Linked DNA regions of Homo sapiens. The protein of the gene in region 2 purifies or fractionates together with the protein of the main gene of each other region. This does not show direct contact. Each region holds a gene or a part of one and is shown on either strand. Other genes may lie near its edges.

Region 1 (3,500 bases), on a different chromosome or scaffold from region 2:
TATTATCCCTGTGAGAAAGTACATAGCGTCATGTGAAGGGGGTGCGTGACTCGTGCAGAATCTCCCAAAAATAGTGAGAAAACCAGTGTCAAATCCTACCTCTCGACAGACTCTAGTGTTAACATGTGACCCTCTGACCTGCATTCATAAGACATCTTAGAGACCCGAATCCCGCTTCCTGTGTAATTCGTAGAGCGATCCCAGGCTGCTCAGCAAAAAAAGTCACAGCACGGAGGTGCCGTTGCCCCGGAAGCATTGCAATCAATAGTCAGCTTGGGATTCTTTTCTTTCACTTCCTCCAACAGCTTCTTGATTTCCAAATTAGTTTCATAGGTCTTCAACCTGGAGGGATCAGAGAACACAAATGTTCCCAGAAATTCATTCTCAACTACCCAGGATGCCTGAATATCTGTTTTCAAACACTCAAAGCAGGAAACGTTTTTGGGATTTTCTGGGGGACAGGGTCTTGCTCTGTTGCCCAGGCTGGGGTACAGTGGTGCCATCTTGGCTCTCTGCAACCTCCAGCTCCCAAGTTCAAGCAATTCTCATGCCTCAGGCTCCTGAGTAACTGTGATTACAGGTGTGCACCACCACGCTTGGCTAAGTTTTGTATTTACAGTAGAGATGGGGTTTCGACATGTTAGCCAGGCTGGTCTCGAACTTCTGGCCTCAAGTGATCCATCCACCTCGGCCTCCCAAAGCCATGGGATTACAGATGTGAGCCACAGCACCCAGTCAGAAAAGTTTTCTAAAAAGAAATTTAGACCCACACAATGGGGATCCTTATAAGTCTAAGAAAAAAAAGATTATGGCCAGGCACGGTGTCTCGCACCTGTAGTCCCAGCACTTTGGGAGGCCAAGGCAGGCAGATTGCTTGAGCTCCGCAGTTCAAGGCCAGCCTGGGCAACACGGTGAAACCCTGTCTCTACCAAAAATAGAAAAAGTTAGCCAGGAATGGTGGTGCACGCCTATAGTCCCAGCTACTCGGGAGGCGGAGGCAAGAGGATCACTTGAGCCCAGGAGGCGGAGGTTGCAACGAGCTAGAGATTGCCCTACTGCACTCCAGCCTGGTAACAGAGTAAAACATGCCTTTAAAAAATAAATTTAAAAAATAGATAATCAGGCTGGTGCACGGTGACTCACGCCTATAATTCCAGCACTTTGGGAGGCCGAGGCGGGCAGATCACCTGAGGTCAGGAATTCGAGACCAGCCTGGCCAACATAGTGAAACCCCGTCTCTACTAAAAATACAAAAATTAGCTGGGCATGGTGGCAGACAACTGTAATACCAGCTACTCAGGAGGCTGAGACAGGAGAATCGCTTTGAACCTGGGAGGCAGATGTTGCAGTGAGCCAATACCGCACCACTGTACTGCAGCCCGGGTGACAGAGCGAGACTCTGCCTCCAAATAAATAAATAAAAAATAGTGGCAAATCAAACCTTCAGTAGAACTAAGAGAATGCCAGAGTGAACCCCAGGGTTAATGATAGCAAACTTGGCTCTAACGTGGCTGCAGCATGCAAGCCTGTGTATGTGAACATGAGGGGTGGTGATTGTGGAGACACTGGCTTGCTATGTTGCCCAGGCTGGTCTCAAACTCCTGGCCTCAAACAATCCTCCCACCTTGGCCTCCCAAAGGAGGAACTGAGGAATGAGAAAAGAAATACGCCCCAAACATATGACATAAGAGACCACAGGGGGCTAGAGATTTGTCACCAATAGTCCTTGGTGGCATTACAGACCTCGGTCCCACCAACAAGAGAAGCATGACACTATTTAGCTCAAGTTTCATGATATACCCCTAAAACCTTAACCCATTTATGCCAGAGGTTACAATTATTTGAACTGCAGACGTGTGAAAAATCGTACCTTGAGCAGGATATAAATAACTCCCACATGCTTAGCGTTCCAATAATGCAACACTGGGCATCATGAAGCAGTTTACATGCGTATCATCTCTACAACTAAAATAACTCTTGAATAAGACAAGTGGGCTGTGCACAGTGGCTCACGCCTGCAATCCGGGTACTTTGTGAGGCCAAGACAGGAGGATCGTTTGAAGCCAGGAGTTTGAGAACCTCGGCAACACGGCCACACAGTGCAGCAGAGCAAAACGTTGTCTCAGAAAAGAAAAGACAAAGGCAAGAAGAAACTAAAGGTAGATTACGTTAAAATAAGTCACTGAGGCCGGGCGCGGTGGCTCACGCCTGTAATCCCAGCACTTTGGGAGGCCGAGGTGGGCAGATCACCTGAGGTCAGGAATTCGAGACCAGCCTGGCCAACATAGTGAAACCCCATCTCTACTAAAAATACAAAAAATTAGCCGGGCGTGGTGGCGGGCGCCTGTAGTCCCAGCTGCTCGGGAGGCTGAGGCAGGAGAATGGCGTGAACCCGGGAGGTGGAGCTTGCAGTGAGCCGAGATCGCACCGCTTCACTCCAGCCTGGGCGACAGAGACTGGAGTCTCTGTCTCAAAAAAAAGACAGATTCAAAAAAAAAGACAGACTCCGTCTCAAAAAAAAGACTCCGTCTCAAAAAAAAATAAAAAATACAAATAAGTCATTGAAAAGATATACACGGGTCACAACTAAGGGAGCATCTGTAGGACGATCTTCTGAAAAGCTAAGACCCAGGACAGCTCTGGGAACTACCTATTTTTGGATATAATGATTAGGGGTGTGTGTGTGTGTGTGTGTGTGCTCATGCACACACATACACACAAGCTTCCAGTCTGTACTCCAGGATGATTTAAACTCTCAGTATGCCTAGGACTAAGTGTTTTGGGGGAAAGTTGGACAATATTCAATTCACAGAGCATTTTAGAAAAGTATCTAATTTTTAAATTATCTCCTAAGCTAGGAGTGTGCTATAGAAAGATGCCTTAAGTTGATCCCTACAAAGAGTACACACACTCCCAAAAAAACTCTTCTCTGCATGGGAAATTCACCATGTGAAACAGCCATCCCAGGGCCGAGCACAGTGGCTCACGCCTGTAATCCCGGCACTTTGAGAGGCTGAGGCAGGTGGATCACCTGAGGTTGGGAGTTTGAGACCAACCTGACCAACATGGTGAAACCCCATCTCTACTAAAAACTACAAAAATTGGCCAGGTGCAGTGGCTCATGCCTGTAATCCCAGCACTTTGGGAGGCCAAGGCGAGAAGATCACCTGAGGTCAGGAGCTCGAGACCAGCCTGGCCAACATGGCAAAACCCCATCTCTACTAAAAATACAAAAATTAGCTGGGTGTGGTGGCGAGCGACTGTAATCCTAGCTACTCAGGAGGCTGAGGCAGGAGAATCACTTGAACCCAGGAGGCAGAGGTTGCACTGAGCCGAGATAGCGCCACTGCACTCCAGCCTGGGGGACAGAGAGAGACTCTGTCTTTAAAAAAAAAAAAAAAAAAAAAAAATTAGCCAGCTGTGGTGGTGTGTACCTGTAATCCCAGCTACTCAGGAGGTTGAGGCAGGAAAATCGCTTCAACCTGTGAGAAGGAGGCTGC
Region 2 (4,168 bases):
GTTAGGCCTCCCTAGCCACGTGGAACTTTAAGTCCATTAAACGTCTTTCTTTTATAAATTGCCCAGTCTTGGGTATGTCTTTATCAGCAGCGCGAAAACAGATTACTAACACACTGTGGTAAAGGTGAAATCAGTGCTCACTCCTTCGGGTGAATTCCGTCACATAATCTCCACTGGGGAAGGGGTGGGCATGGGCAGCTCCTGGGAGCTGATGTCTTAGGGGCCCTAACACAAAAGTTCATGCAGTTCAGCATCCCTTCCCCTCCCATGCCCCACAGGGCACAAACGCATTGTTGTCCATCACCAAAACACATTACCCTTAGTACTCGACTCTAATGAAGTTCCAGTTCCTCAGTTGTATAACGAGGCTTCCAAGCTCCTATTTTAAAAGAAAGTTTCTTGAAGCTAAATAAAAGCACTGCTAACATGAAATTAACAGTGGAAATTTTTGAGTGTAATTTCAGGGTGAAAAAAACTGAAAAGACAAATGTAGATTTTAGATATTTCAAGGAAGGAGAGAGAGTAGTGTTGCTGGTACCATGCCTCTGCACTTGCTATAGCTGAGTTTCATTTGAGTATCCATTATTTGGAAGGAGTTCTTAAATCTAAGCCTGTGGAAGACAATAAATTCACATTAATTATCTCTCCATTTGACTCAATTTCTGAAGAAGTTCTATCCTTCTGATGAACTATCAGATTAAATCCCAGATTCCTCAGTATGATGTCCCTGAATACCAATATAAAGAATAAAGGAAGAGATCAAAACCTGGATGAATAATCTGTATAAACATGGGCATATACACAAGGTATGACTATAATATTGAGACTCATCCTATAAAGCACCTACAAAAGTTGATTGTATTATTTTATACTTATGCTTGTGCACATAAAAAATATTTGGCAGGCTAAAGGCCAAAGAACCAGGCACTGTTCTCAAAAGGACATAGCAGATTAACTACACCTCTATTTGTCCTTCTATACTCAAGGCTACTTACTGTAGTTGGGTTGACCAGGCAGAGTTTAAATCAATATATGTTGGTTGAGCCTGGATCTTAGATGAGAAATTCACACTAACGTGAAATTCACACAGACATATGTGGAAACACTAAAAACATTTTCTTTTACTTCATCCACCAGTGACTTTAATGAAAGCAGAGCATAATAATTAATACAAGTAATTAGAGTTGACAACTGAAGTGTCAAGAAAACCACAGTTCATCTGTTATCCGTCCATCTCTGTTGAAATATTAGTTTACTGCCATATATTAATCTATTTATAAAGAGATCCAGACAATTAGAAAAATTAGTCTGGAATCACCAGGCTGAAGGCTTAGCTGAAGTTAAAAGACAAGTAAAAATGCCTCCAAACTGTAAAACCTGAGTTGGGGAATAAATGGTAAAATGTGTAAAAATTTAGAAAAAGGTTATATGTGGACTGTAAAAAATACACTGGACTCACAGGTAATTAAGGGGTGAATCAGAGTTGTTTCCTAAATGGCATAAGCCAAACTCTTAGATATTTCTACCATTAGCTAAAAGGCAGAGAAGCACTCTCTCTCTCTATTAATGCACTTTTAAAAATGAAAATTGTGAAGTGTTCTGCCCTTAAAGTGGACCTTTATTTCAGGTCTGCATTACTTTGCTTAATAGATATGGTCCTAAAGATTAAGGTGGTGATCCATTTTATCTTGTAAAAATGCATAATTTAATCTGAGTTATAGGAATTTAAAGCTGCCCTACTTTGAAGGCCTTTGTGACTCAAAGATTTTTTTAATTTAATTTTTAAATTGAGAATTACCTGGCTTGGGCTTTTGGTCTTTTTATAATACGTATTGCTGTCTACTTTTTTTTTTATTCTTGGCTGCCTCAAGCTATTCTTGCCTCCAAAAGGTGTCAGCATATGAATAAAAACAGCAGAAAATAATTACCCTAATTAGGTCAATGTATTAAGCTGTTTCTACAACTGTTTCTCTTAAACACCTTATCTTTGTAGTCTTGGCTCATTAGAAATTCGACTAGTGGTAAGTATTTATTTTTTTCCTTCAAGGGGGTTTTTGCTTTGCTAAGCCTCGGGCATTTGGTTCGTGCAAGAAATCACAGAAACTGCTCCAGCGGACTCCGAAAGGAGCGGAAAATTCTTTTGTTTGGGGGCCATGAGGGGTGGGGGAGGGGTGGGGATTCTGGTGTAAGCTTTTGGCTTGCATTCGCTTTCTCCCTCCGAAAGTGGGCGACATCAAGCAAGTCCCAGTTACAGAAAGAACCCACTGCAGGGCGTCCAGTCACTTGCCCAGTGAAAAGACTGTAATCAGACAACTTTAATAAAGGGAGAGCAGGAGAGTGGTGACGAATTTCCACATTCCGAACAAGCTTGTCGAAAGAGGAGTGCAGGGAAGGAGCAAGAATGAGGCACTGGAAGACGGTGAGCGGGGCCTTGCCACAGAATCCCGGGCCCACCTGCTTTCTCACAGTCGCGACAGCCGGCCCGGAGAAGGGCAGCCCAGCGAAGGGCACGCCCCGCGCGGGTGCCAGGGAGGCCGGCAGGGGCGTCCGCGGTCGCTGCTCACCTGCGCTCCCCGCTGCCCGGCCCAGCCCGCCTCGCCACCGAGTCTGGAAGCCCACACTCACCCCTTTACCCGGGAAACGCGGCCGGAGCCGGCGGCGGGTCGGGAGTCCGAGATGGTAGATCCCCCTCCAGGCGCCTCGCTGACATTTTGTCCCGGACGGAAAACCTCCGCGCGTGCCCCTTAAAGACACAGCGCTGCATTCACACGTCTGCGGGGAAAGGGGGGCCGTCACGTGTGGCCTTCGCCCGAAAGCGGTAGGGGAGTCGCTCTGAAACCGCCAAGGATCGCGAGCGACAGATTTGTGTTGGCCAGGGTTTTAAGATGACGCAATAGCTGAGTGTGGTTGAAATGTAACTATTGTTTTACAACTTTGCATTAACCTTCCAAGACCTGAATTCCCGGGCCTGAGTCTCAGAGCGCGGTTTGCATCTTTGCAGGCTGTAGGCGCATGATGTCACAAGTTATTGGAAGAAATCCCTCCAACCTAGGTTGGGACAGATGAAGGCGGCGCTTATTGGTGTTCACCAAAACACCAGCATGGTGTACCAGCTTTGGCTAGATGATGCTCAGGTAACGAACAACCCCTGCAACTCAGTGGCTTAAAGGTCCATTTCTCAAGCGAATTACTGTGGCTGCAGGGAGCTTTGGCAGTACTCCACCAGTTTTCTTCACTCCAGGCTGAAAGGTCAACTTTTCTGGGCCATGCTCCCTGCTGGGCTGGTAAACCAACTTTGAGGGAGAAGGGGGAAGTCCAGATATGTAGTGTTTGCTATTTCTATGATGTAAATGCTCCCACAATGGCCGATTTCAAGCTACAAACAGTCCAACAAGTGGCTTGCCAAGTTCCTGGAAATTTAACAATTAGCTCCTGTACATGACTGGCACAAGCTGCTTTCCAAACTCACATTCCGCATGCCTCAGTTCTGCTCACTTTCTATTGGTCAAAACTTGCTGTCAGTGGGTGGGGAAGTGTACCCCTCTCTTAAGGAAGCCTTGCAAGTCTTGTGACAATGAAACAGGAGAGTTCCCTGATTTCCTCCCGGCCCCCGCCCTCCCACAGCCCTTTGCAGGACGTGCAACAGGGTTGTGGCTCGTGTGTTCGGTCTCTGCCTGCTGAAACCCCTTATGGGAGGTGGAGCATGCAGACGGACGGGTGCAGGAGCCAGGGTGCAAAAGCTGGGGCGCTGGGCTTCCAGCCCCACGGCAGTGTCCAGGGGCAGGATCCCGTGATTCCCGGAGCCCAAATGGGCGTGTGTTACAGTGTGCTCTTTTAGCCTTACCATCAGCTGACGGCTTAAGTGTTAACCAGCTCAATAGACCCTCTGCCTTTTTGCAAGCGCAGAGGGTCAGTGTGACAGTTTCTGTATCTCAGCTCTTGTCTCACCTCCCAGAAGAATCAGGTCACACATGGACTTGAAGGATGGTGAGTGCCGGGGTGGGGGCGGGGGTAGAGGAGTTGGGGGAAGGTTGGGGGTGTTTATTAGGTGGTAGGGGTGGCACTCAGTAGGATGGATGGGGAGCTGGAAAGGGGGTGGAGTAGGGAGATGATCTTCCCCTGGAGTTTAACCGTCCAGCGGTGGATTCTCTAACTGTCCCCAGCTGAA

What was found. The genes of interacting proteins can lie anywhere in the genome.
Region 1: the proteins of ZBED3 (region 2) and NLRP7 purify together in Homo sapiens (co-immunoprecipitation; one study listed by IntAct). This does not show direct contact.

Annotation. Positions count from the first base shown.
Region 1 is NC_000019.10:54,923,531-54,927,030, forward strand, and holds part of NLRP7 (NACHT, LRR and PYD domains-containing protein 7), read right to left. Parts: intron 343-3,500; coding exon 210-342; 3' UTR 1-209. UniProt on the Homo sapiens protein: Inhibits CASP1/caspase-1-dependent IL1B secretion.
Region 2 is NC_000005.10:77,084,486-77,088,653, forward strand, and holds the start of ZBED3 (zinc finger BED domain-containing protein 3), read right to left. Parts: upstream 2,801-4,168; 5' UTR 2,626-2,800; exon of another isoform or gene 2,230-2,625; intron 612-2,229; exon of another isoform or gene 1-611. UniProt on the Homo sapiens protein: Acts as a positive regulator in the activation of the canonical Wnt/beta-catenin signaling pathway by stabilizing cytoplasmic beta-catenin. Involved in transcription activation of Wnt target gene expression.